Linked DNA regions of Homo sapiens. The protein of the gene in region 1 purifies or fractionates together with the protein of each later gene. This does not show direct contact. Each region holds a gene or a part of one and is shown on either strand. Other genes may lie near its edges.

Region 1 (4,294 bases):
AGTTTATGCAAATTTTCTGAGAAGGTCAGAGCTTGAGCCCATTCCAGGGAGTTTATGCAAATTTTCTGGGAAGGTCAGAGTTTGGGCCCATTCCAGAGTGACAGCGGAAAGGATTTTACCATGTTATCCTTAGTATCTGATCTGCCCCAGCATCTGGTACTTTGCACGGTGGAAGGTTTTTTTATTTAAAAAAAAAAAAAGGCTAGCCCACATTAATGAATGAATAGGAATAGTGTGCTGTTAAAGCAAGTAAGAATTTCCATTGGTTTACACGGGCTCTAGATGGAGATTTCTGCAAAGGATGAGACAAAAATCTCCCTTGGATGCTCATCTGGTTGGACTGAGCTACCTTGTCCTTCAAGTTTTTACATTCCCCCCACAACCTCATTCAAGTAAGTTTCCTTTCTTTCTATTATTGTGTTTCAAATGGGGTAGGAAATTTTAAATGAGAACCTGGAAAAATACTGCTCACCGTAATAAACAAACATCATCTTTTGAACTTTTACTAAATATAACTCTTGCAGGAGTCACCTTAAAAATTGTCAATCTTTATACATTTTACTAATTAGAAACATCCTTAGAAGTAAGTACTAAATGTTCTAGCCTATAGTAAAAATCCATATGTTGCCTCCGGCCAAAACTCAACATCGCTCTTTTTCCTCGAATCTTTCACAAAAACATAATCCTAAAAATTAAAACATCTTTACAATAATGAAAAACCTACTTTTAAAATGCCATGTGTTTCTACATTAAGGGGAGAAAGTTTTTCATTTTTTGTTTGTACAAGTTGAGCATTTCAGGAAGTCATTGGTATCCATTGATAACAACCACGTTCTCCATTTTCCCAGAAGAGCCAGGAGCCACTTTCAGTCCTAGTTAACGAAAACGCATGCATAAATCAACCACTCGGGTCGGTCGGTCTTCTCCACTCCTTCAGCAGAGGACGTCGGCGCCCGGCTGCCTCGCCCGCCTGCCTGTCTCTAGGCTGCGGGAGGATTAGACACATGCGCACGATTGGTCTCTTTGTGTGCACCAGGAAGGGTCTGGCGTCGATTTACACTTCCTAACGGGGCAGAGACCTGGAACGGCCGCGAGTGCTTGGGAATAAAAATGTACTGTAAACAAGGCCAATGAAATAAGTGTCTCGCTCCCGCTGGCCTTCCGCGTTGGAAGTGTCCCCACTGCCCTTTCCCCGCTGCACAGCTTGCGAGTGGAGATTTAGAGCCCGGGAATGAGGCGCCGTGTCCTTAGGAATCTCGCGCCCGGGGAGCGCTGAGGGACCGGGGAGCCGGGTGGGGAGCGGGCCTCGGGGCGCCCGGCGGCGGAGGCGCTCCCACCCGCGCGGAGAGGGATGGAGCGCGTCTTGCGAGCGTCTCCGAGCCCAGCCACCCCACGGGCCAGGGGGAGGGAGCGGGGCCGGCGCATCAGCCCGCCCCCCCCGGCCCGCCCCCTCCCCCCGCGCCGGGGAGCCGCGGTGGTGCGCTCCGGCCAGCTGTGCGCCGCCGAGCGAGGCGCCAGCCCGTGGGTGCTGCCGGGGGCGGCGGCGCGGTGGGGGCTCCCGCAGCTGGCGGAGGCGCGGGCCGCGGCGCTGGGCTCGCGGCGGGGAGCGAAGGTGAGCGCCAGAACGCGGAGGGCTGGCGCGGCTCGCGGCGCCGGGCCCCGTTCCCCGTCCGCGGCGGCCCTGCAGGCGACCCCGCGTCCCCACCGGCGGGAGCTCGGGGAAGAGCGGGCGGCGGCGCTGCTGCTGGCGGCGGCCGGCTGGATGCGAGACCCGCGCAGACCCGGCGGCGGACGGCGGCTCTCGACTCCGGAGAGCGGATCGCGGGGCGCAGGAGCCCGATCGCGCTGGCCATGGCCTCCAACTTTAACGACATAGTCAAGCAGGGCTACGTGAAAATCCGCAGCAGGAAGCTTGGGGTGAGTGGCTCGCTCGGCTTGCTCCTTCCCCGGCGCTCGTTCGGCCCGGCTGGCTGCCTGGGGGGGGGGCAGGGAGAGGTGACCCGTGCGGGTACAGGGCAGAGAGGGACCCGGCCCTTAGGCGGATGGCCCGCTTGTTGCTTGGCCAGGTGGGGGCCCACACCTGCCGGGGGGCTCCGCAGACGGACCTGGGGACTCCAGGAGCGCCTGAGTCCCCATCCTCGAGTGCACCGGGCTGTCTTCGACCGTGCGGGGAAGTCAGTAGACGAAAGGGGTTGTCAGTTCCAACGAGGAACGTGCCTTGGAGGAGGTTTCTTTGCGGTGCTATCCACGATGGTCTGTTCTCAAAAGTGTGCGCCTTTCGGGTGGAACTGCTGTGTGTGGCGACGCTCGCGTGTGTTTAGAATCACCATTTTCTGGTCTCCGCTTCCCAAGCTCAATTCGAAATTCCCGTCTGATGCCCTCCCAGCGCCGCGCGTCCCTGCCGGCTGTAGTTTAGGGCGCCTTCGCCGTGGCCGAGGGCGGCTCCCGCGCCCCGCAAGTGCTCCCCTACCCGGGGACCCGCGCCCGCGTGCAGGCAGGTGTGTGCCCCGCGCCCGCCCGCGGTCACTGCTCCGTGACGGCAAAGTTGATGGAGACCTTTCCCTATTCTTGAGAGATGCGCTGCCTGGCTTGGGAGGGAAACCGTGTAGAACCCAAGGGTTCAAAACTATTCTAGTGACCAGACGAGGCGGTAGGAGGGACTCACGGGAGGCAGCGGGACAGGAGGGGCTGTCACCTGGGCGGGAGCAGCCTAGACTTGGGACGCGAGAGAGAGGATGGAGGGATGGGCAGGAGGTCCCTGGGGAGCGCGCGATGTAGGGTGGCCTGGGAGGCTGACCCCGGCTGGCTGGTCCAGAAAAGCGAGGGGAAACTCGTCTGGGAAAGAAAGGGCCCCTGTTCCAGACTCTGGTTGTGTCTACCTCACTGTTCTCCAACTTCCAGTTCTACCAAGCTCCTGCCTCCCGGGGCAAAGGGTCCTTGAGCTAGAACCTTTCCTGTGTTCCCTGATGACTGGATGAATCCTCCAACTTGGAGAAGGGGAAAAAGAGGGGAGGACTTTGCTAATTTTTGTGTAAAAAAGAAAGCAAAAGAAGGGTAGTGTTAGAGAGTGGAAGAAAGATAAGGTAGAATCCCCGAAAGAGGGCAGATCACCAAGCACCAGGAGTCGCTTTGTCGGGAGTTGGCGGCGCCAGGTGTTGGGGACAGGAGGACGGGAAAGGCAGACTTGACTCTTGGTGCTGCCTCTGCTGGGTTTCGCATTAAAGGTGCAGACTGTACCCCAAGGACAACAGGGGCCCATTCTGGAACTTCAGCAGCTCTGTAGTAGGCTGGGAGGCTGCAAGAGCGAGTGCGGAGCTGGGTGACAGCAACGCCCCCCTTCCTCCAGCCTGGAGCCAACGTGCGCTGCCGTGAGCCCCACCAAGGCGAGAGAGAGCAGGCGCCAGAGTCAGATCCTCGGCCAGGTTTCAAGGGCTTTTCTTGGGTAGAAGAAAGCGCCTCATTCTTTTCCAGGCATATAAGGACGAACCCACGGGAAAAGCTGCGGTTCTCCAGGAGTCTGGTTGTTCCTCGCAGCCGGGACGGAATGCTCAAGTCTGTCACCACACAGCTGTCAGCCAAGGGAGGTGCAGAGCTGGAGGTGGAAGGGAGTCGTCTTCTTAGCTTGACCTTTGAAGCCCTTTGCTTTACGACTGGATGCTTGATCATTTTTCTCGGCCTTTGATCTTCTTGAAATCGCAATTGTATCTGATGCCTCAGACTATATAAACTAATGGATGAGTTAAGTCCCAGACAAGATGTATGTCTGCGTTCACAGAGTCACCTGCATATGAAAATGAGACTGAAGAATGTAGCCTGAGCATCCCCTTCCTGCGCACTTGGCCCTGGAGTCTATAGGATTCCCCTCCACCCCATCCAAGCCCTCCAGGATTTCACACAACAAAAACTGAGTATGTAACCCAATTATAACATAGGGCCCAAGGAAAGTGCATTGATTGCTTCTTGGGTAACTATGGCATTCACAGCGTTTGAAATGTCATCTTGAACGCCATTTCTGCCTAACGATGTGTGCAAATGTATATTTACACTTACAAAGCCTCTTTTGCTGTGTTCACTGTTTAGAGCTTTGCCTTTGTAAAGTGCAGCCTTCATAGAAAACAATAAAAGTGTGTTCATATAAAAGTTAATTGCTTTTGTCCTCCATTTCTACCTGAGAAATGTAAACTTCAAAGTTAGATATTGAAACAGTTTTGTTTTAAATTAAATCAAAATATTAAATTCACCTTGACTATTTTGGGAACTTTTTTTTTAAGTCAGATACTTTTCTATTCAGAAT
Region 2 (3,500 bases), on another chromosome or scaffold:
CCAAAGTGCTGGGATTACAGGCACGTGCCACCATGCCCGGTTAATTTTTGTTTTTTTTTTTTTTTTTTCAGTAGAGATGGAGTTTCACCATGTTGACTAGGCTGGTCTTGAACTCCTGACTTCAAGTGATCCACCTGCCTTGGCCTCCCAAAGTGCTGGGATTGCAGGCACATGCCACCACGCCTGGCTAATTTTTGTATTTTTTTTTTTTTTTTTTAGTAGAGACAGTGTTTCACCATGTTGACCGGGCTGGTCTCAAACTCCTGACCTCAAGTGATCCACCTGCCTCGGCCTCCCAAATTGCTGGGATTACAGGCATGAGCCACCTCGCCCGACCTTCTTCTTCTTCTTCTTTTTTTTGAGATGGAGTCTTCCTCTGTCACCCGGGCTGGAGTGCAGTGACATGATCTCAGCTCACTGCAACCTCTGCTTTCCGGGTTCAAGTGATTCTTGTGTCTCAGCCTCCTGAGCAGCTGGGATTACAGGTGCCCACCACCTTGCCCGGATAACTTTTGTATTTTTAGTAGAGACGGGATTTTGCCATGTTGGCCTGGCTGGTCTCGAACTCCTGACCTCAAGTGATCCACCCGCCTTAGTCTCACAAAGTGCTGGCATTACAGGCATGAACCACTGCACCCTGCCGGCCCTGGTTTTCTCCTCGCCTCAAAACCTCATTGCTGAGGGAGGTGAAAACCCTAACAGCTCCCAAGCCCCAGTTCCACTGCAATCTTTTTTTTTTTTTTCAGATGGAATCTTGCTTTGTGACCCAGGCTGGAGTGCAGTGGCATGATCTTGGCTCACTGCAAGCTCTGCCTCCCAGGTTCAAGCAATTCTCCTGCCTCAGCCTCCTGAGTAGCTGGGATTACAGGTGCCCGCCACCACGCCCAGCTAATTTTTGTATTTTTAGTAGAGACGGGGTTTCACCATGTTGGTCAGGCTGGTCTCGAACCCCTGACCTTGTGATCCACCCACCTCGGCCTCCCAAAGTGCTGGGATTATAGGCGTGAGCCACCGCGCCCGGCTCCACTGCAATCTTAATGCATAGCAGGGCCCTAAACCCAGCCTGCGCCCGATCTGCATTTGAGTCTGACCCAGGGCAGAGTGACTGTGAGTGGCCTCGGGAAGACTTTGAAGGTGCAGCTTCATCAAGTCCTAGATGCTGGGAAGAAGGGGTGTGGGGGGTGTTTACCTTGTTCCATTCCCATCCACTAGGAACAAGGAATTGGCAGGTGGGGAGGTAGGCATGCTGGTGTCCCAGCTCAGGCAGAGGACTGCTCAGACGTCAAACAGTGCAGTCCCAGCCTGGGCAACATAGCCAGATTCCATCTCTACAAAACATTTTTGTTTTAATTAGCTTGGCATGGTGGCATGCGCCTGTGGTCCCAGCTACTCGGAAGGCTGAGGTGGGAGGATCGCTTGAGCCCTGGAGGTCAAGGCTGCAGTGAGCTATGATCGCGCCACTGCACTCCAGCCTGGGCAACAGTGAAACCCTGTCTCAAAAAAAAAAAAACTAATGTAAACGACAAGTTGATGGGTGCAGCAAACCAACATGGCACATGTATACCTATGTATCAAACCTGCACGTTGTGCATGTGTACCCTAGAACTTAAAGTATAATAATAATAATAATAATAATAATAAAAGAGTGGGCCGGGCGCGGTGACTCACGTCTGTAATCCCAGCACTTTGGGAGGCTGAGGCAGGCGGATCACGAGGTCAGGAGATCAAGACCATCCTGGCTAACACGGTGAAACCCTGTCTCTACTAAAAAAAATACAAAAAATTAGCCGGGCGTGGTGGCAGGCGCTTGTAGTCCCAGCTACTCGGGAGGCTGAGGCAGGAGAATAGCGTGAACCCGGGAGGCGGAGCTTGCAGTGAGCCGAGATCCCACCACTGCACTCCAGCTTGGGTGACAGAGCGAGACTCCGTCTCAAAAAAAAAAAAAAAAAAAAAGACCTAATGTAAATGACGAGTTGATGGGTGCAGCAAACCAAAATGGCACATGTATACCTATGTATCAAACCTGCACATAGTGCACATGTACCCCAGAAGTTAAAGTATAAGAAAAAAAAAAAGAGTGTAGTGCAGTCACCCACGCACTCCGGTCATTCACTCATTCATTCATTCATTCATTCACAAAAGAAGCATTTATGAGTTCCTGCTGTGTGCCAGGCTCTGGCCTAGGCACTGGGAACAGTGAACAGAACAGACTCGACTCAGAGCTCAAGGACTTTTAGTCCAGTTGAGGAGATCAATCATATAATTGATCAAATAATCACAGATTTGTGGTCGTAAGTGTCCTGGGGAAAACTCAAGCGGAAGGGAAGATGGGAGGGTCAGGTATATGTCTGCGGGTGGAGAGTCTGCAGTTTCCTAGAGAGTGGTCTGGGAGGCCTCTCTGAAGAGGTGACATTTGAACAGAACCTTAGATGAAGTGAGGGAGGGCTCAGGGGACCTGAGGCAAAGCAGAGGGGGCCACCAGTGCAAAGGCGTGAGGTAGGATCGTGCTTGGGGTGTTCAAGAAACAAGAAGGAGGCTGGCGTGACGAGCACCAAATGATTGAGCAGAAGTGGAGATGAAGTCGCAGAGTGAACTGAGAGTCAGATGGTGGAGGGCATTTTATTTCATTTATTTATTTAGAGACAGAGTCTTGCTCTGGTGCCCGGGCTGGAGTACAGCGGTGCAATCATAGCTCACTACAGCCTCGACTTCCTAGGCTCAACTGATCCTCCCACCCCAGCCTCTTCAGCCCCAGCCTCCTCAGTAGCTGGAACTACAGGCACACATCACCACGCCCGGTGAAGTTTTCGGGTTTTTTTTTTTTTTTTTTTTGTAGAGACACGGGTCTCACCATGTTGCCCAGGCTGATCTGAAACTCCTAGGCTCAAGCCATCCTCCTGTCTCGGCTTCCCAAAGCACTGGGATTACAGGTGTGAGCCACTGTGCCCAGTTCTACAGAGGGCATTTTAGGCAGAGGACTTAGGATTTCATTCTGAAGGCAATGGGAGGCTCCTGGAGGATTTGGAACTGGACGGTAACTTGAACTGTTTAAAAAAGGCCATTCTGGGCCAGGGGCAGTGGCTCATGCCTGTAATCCCAGCACTTTGGGAGGCTGAGGTGGGCATATCACTTGAGGTCAGGAGTTCGAAACCAACCTGACCAACATGGTGAAACCGCGTCTCTACTAAAAATACACAAAATTTAGCTGGGCATGGTAGCAGGCACCTGTAATCCCAACTACTTAGGAGGCTGAGGCAGGAGAATTGCTTGAACCCAGGAGACAGAGGTTGCAGTGAGCCGAGATCCCGCCACTGCCTTCCAGCCTGAGTGACAGAGCAAGACTCCATCTCGGAAAAAAAAAAAAAAATTCTGGCTGCTGGATGAAGAAGGGTGGGTCTGTAGGGGATGAAGTGGAAGTTGGGAGCTCATTACAAGAGGCCAGGAAACAGACTCTGGTGGCTGAGACCCAGGTGGAGGTGGCGGGGAGCAGTGGGTGGTTT
Region 3 (3,500 bases), on another chromosome or scaffold:
ATTCCCGCTGCACACCCATGGTAGAACTGCAACCAGGACATGAGCCTCCTGACACCCCTAAAAGCCATGCAGCCTTCTGCCGTGAGTGGGGAAGGGGTCCAGGCATGGCTGAGGTTTGGGAGAAGGAGGTCCGCAACTGGGCACTGGGGGACCTGGCAGCCCAAGGCTACCTTCTGCACACAGACCCAGCCTTCTGCTCTGAGGGGCCCAGGCCCTAAGCTGCACGATGGCCACCACCCACACTTCCATACCCAGACCAGCTGCAGCGGCCTGGCCAGGATGATGGGCGCTCCTGCCCAACTGCAATTTCCCAGCTGCTGCAGAGTTAATCACCAGCCTCACTGGCAGTTGCTTCCGGCTTCTATGCAAAGGAAACTGCCAATTAGGTTATAATTAATTTCTTTCCTAGGGCAAGGCCTGGCTGAACAGGACTGGCCACCCAAGTGGCCTGTGGATGACCATGTAAGGGTCACTGGCCCCCTTGGCTGCAGGGCTGTAGAGTCTGCCCCAGCTGATTACATTGTTCACTGGCCCTGGCCTGGGGCAACGGGGCCAGGGCATCACCACTGGCTTTGACCCTGGTGCCTCTGGCCTGGGCAACTGTCCCCATGCACTCAGCAAGGCAGTGACTCAGATCATGTCCATGTGCAAATTTAAGTCAATCTGTCAGCTCATGTTCCTCAAGCTGAGATGGTCTTGCCCATTTTCGCCCTACCCCAGCCCCTTCTCATCCCTGTTCAACATTAACCAGTAGGAATCCACGGTGTGCTCCTCATGAGCAGGTCTGCTCCGGGCGCTTCATCTGCATCACCCACTGCATCAAAACAACTGTCAGAGGTAGGGACCATGAGGATTCCCATCTCACACAGGAGGAAAATGAGGCAGCACTAGCTTAGGTACCCTGCTGGAGGCCACACAGAGGCTAGGAATTAAGCTGCAGTCTGGCCTGGGCTTCTCTGTTCAGTGACAGGCATGCAGAGAAGCCGAGGCACCGTGAGCTACCACCCCTTCTGCATTGGGCTGCAGAGTAGAAGCTGGGCTCTCCCTGGAGAGAGGACACAAAAAAGGCTTGAGGGTCTGCTCTTAAGAGCAGTGGAGAGCAGAGGGAGAGAGCCAGGAGCCTCTGAGACAGTAGGTTTCAGCCCAGCACAGACCTGGGGCCAGACAAGCTGACAATCCTGATGCCCCAGGTCACAGCCAGGCAGCCCGATGCGGGGGCACCACCTGCATCTGGATGCTGTTATCCAGGTCCTGGGAGCAAAGACCTCAACATCAAGGGTGAAGAAGAATCCAAACCCAAGGCTGGGGATGCCATGCAGGGAAGGGGATGCCCAGGGAAGTGGTGCCAAGTCTTCATCTGACACTACCCCCATGTGTGACAACTCACGCCTCCCTCAGGGCCTCGATTTCTCCCTGTGTAAAATGAGAGGTTTGCACTGATGTGTAAGCTCCTCTCAGCCGAGGTCCTCATGCCCTTTGAGTCCACGTGATGTCTATGCAGGAGTATCCACAGAATGAGCTCCTGACCAGGGGCCGAGGGGCAGACGGTGGCCGAGATGGAAATCAGGACAGGCTCTGGCCTAGGTGGCCCCTGGGGGGTGAGGGACATGGGGCCAAAACAGGATTAAGACTGCAAGTGTCCTCCCAGGCCACTGACGATGAGGCAAGAAGACAAAGGCCTAGTCCAAAGGAGAGAGTTCAGCAGCAGAAAGGAGAGAGTTCAGCAGCAGGAAGGAGCAGAAACGCAGGGCAGAGCGGCCCAGCCCATGCCCCTGTGCTTCCCCGCTGTTTGCCAGGGCTGGGCACTTGGCTTCCCTGGCTCTGTCCCTAGCTGCGAATGGGGACAGGAACTCCTCCTTGGGAGCACAGAGTGCCTGCCTATGGATGCCAGTGTTCCACCCCCACCAAGCAGATTTGCAGGAGCCCACAGAGGCTGCCTGCCACCCTCGGTTCAGGGCCCCCCAGCTCCATGCTGGCCTCCAGAGCTGCCTAGGTGCATCCACCGCTGTCCTGAGAAAACTGCCCCAGGGCCTGGCAGCATGACATCACACCACGGCAATGATGATAATCAACTTACAGCGGATCCGATTATCAGCCTGGTTATTTTTAGAGTCAGGGTTCAGGATGAGCGAGAGAGGGCGGCCCTGGTTCCCCTGCTGCTGAGTCTCGTCTTGTCAGTGGGGTGGGGGTCTGCTGGCTCCTTGCACCTTCCCCTTCCTCCATCCTTCACAGGGCGGTTCCTGAGAGGCCCCTTCTTATGCACAAGCAGTGACACCATGGTTTCCAGATGTTGGTGCTCAACGTGGCCTCAGAGTCCAGGTCTTCCGAGAATGTCCTCAAGGTCCTCGAGGGCAGTGGTGATTCAATGCCCATGTGAGGAATCAGACGAATCCACACTCTCCTCACAAGGGACCTGGGGCTCAATCACTGACAGTGACGGCCCTGGATAAAGCTGCTTCTCTGCAGCTCTTGATGCAGATGCAACAGCAAAGTCAGCTGTATGGCAAGACAGCCATCTAGTTAGACAACAGGCAGAGGGCTCGAAGAGATGCTTCTCCAAAGAGACATGCAACTGGCCAGCATGCACAGGAAAAGATGCCCAGCACGCCATCACCGGGGAAAGGCAAACCAAAGCCACAACGAGCTAGCACTGTGCACTGGCTGCACGGCCAGAGTGAGACATGAACCAGAGAATAACAGAGAATAATGCGTGGTGGTGAGAATGTGGATAGATTGTAACCCTTGGGAATGTAACACAATTCAACCACTGTGGAAAACAGTTTGGCGGCTCCACAAAATATAAAACAGAATTACCTAGCGATTTCATGTCCAGGTATGTACCCAAAAGAACTGAAAGCACGAACTCAGGTATTTATAACAGGAATGTCCCTGGCAGCATTTTTCATAACTGCCAAAAGGTGGAAAGCACCCACGTGTCCATCCCCAGATGAATGGGTGACGGCACACTATTTACCCCTCACAGGAAGGGGCTGATGTGTGCCACAGCCTAGAGGAACCCTGAAGACCTTATGCTGAGTGAAGCCAGACAACAGTCCATGCAGATGAAATGTTCCAGGACAGGCCAAGCCGCAGAGACAGAACGCAGGCTGGGGGTTGCCCGGGGACAGGAAGCAGCTGTTTAATGGGTATGGGGTTTCCTTTTGGGGTGATGCAAATTTTTTGGAACTAAGGCAATGCCTGTTCAATGCTGTAAATGTGCTAAATGCCACCAAATGGTTCACTTATAAATGGTTAAACTTATGTTACACAAATTTCACAATTAAAAAAGAGTAAACCATAATTATTTGCTACCCTGTTTCCCCCTCTGTCCCCCTCAGCTGCTGGGCCCGCCAGGAGCCCCTGCTATGTGGACCAGGACAAGGGATGGAGAGCTGGTAGGCAGAAGTGTGTGCAGGTACACCCCTGCGTGCCCCCATCCCCGCGTCCTCTGTACTTGAAGCCTCCTGGGGTGAGAACGACCATGTGACAGGATCCCACGG

The links.
Region 2: the proteins of DOK6 (region 1) and CNN1 purify together in Homo sapiens (affinity purification with mass spectrometry; one large-scale study listed by BioGRID and IntAct). This does not show direct contact.
Region 3: the proteins of DOK6 (region 1) and RET purify together in Homo sapiens (affinity purification with western blotting, with the first as the bait; one study listed by BioGRID). This does not show direct contact.

What each region holds. Positions count from the first base shown.
Region 1 is NC_000018.10:69,399,394-69,403,687, forward strand, and holds the start of DOK6 (docking protein 6), read left to right. Parts: upstream 1-1,494; 5' UTR 1,495-1,851; coding exon 1,852-1,917; intron 1,918-4,294. UniProt on the Homo sapiens protein: DOK proteins are enzymatically inert adaptor or scaffolding proteins. They provide a docking platform for the assembly of multimolecular signaling complexes. DOK6 promotes Ret-mediated neurite growth. May have a role in brain development and/or maintenance.
Region 2 is NC_000019.10:11,541,851-11,545,350, forward strand, and holds part of CNN1 (calponin-1), read left to right. Parts: intron 1-3,500. UniProt on the Homo sapiens protein: Thin filament-associated protein that is implicated in the regulation and modulation of smooth muscle contraction. It is capable of binding to actin, calmodulin and tropomyosin. The interaction of calponin with actin inhibits the actomyosin Mg-ATPase activity.
Region 3 is NC_000010.11:43,083,569-43,087,068, reverse strand, and holds part of RET (proto-oncogene tyrosine-protein kinase receptor Ret isoform a precursor), read right to left. Parts: intron 1-3,500. UniProt on the Homo sapiens protein: Receptor tyrosine-protein kinase involved in numerous cellular mechanisms including cell proliferation, neuronal navigation, cell migration, and cell differentiation in response to glia cell line-derived growth family factors (GDNF, NRTN, ARTN, PSPN and GDF15).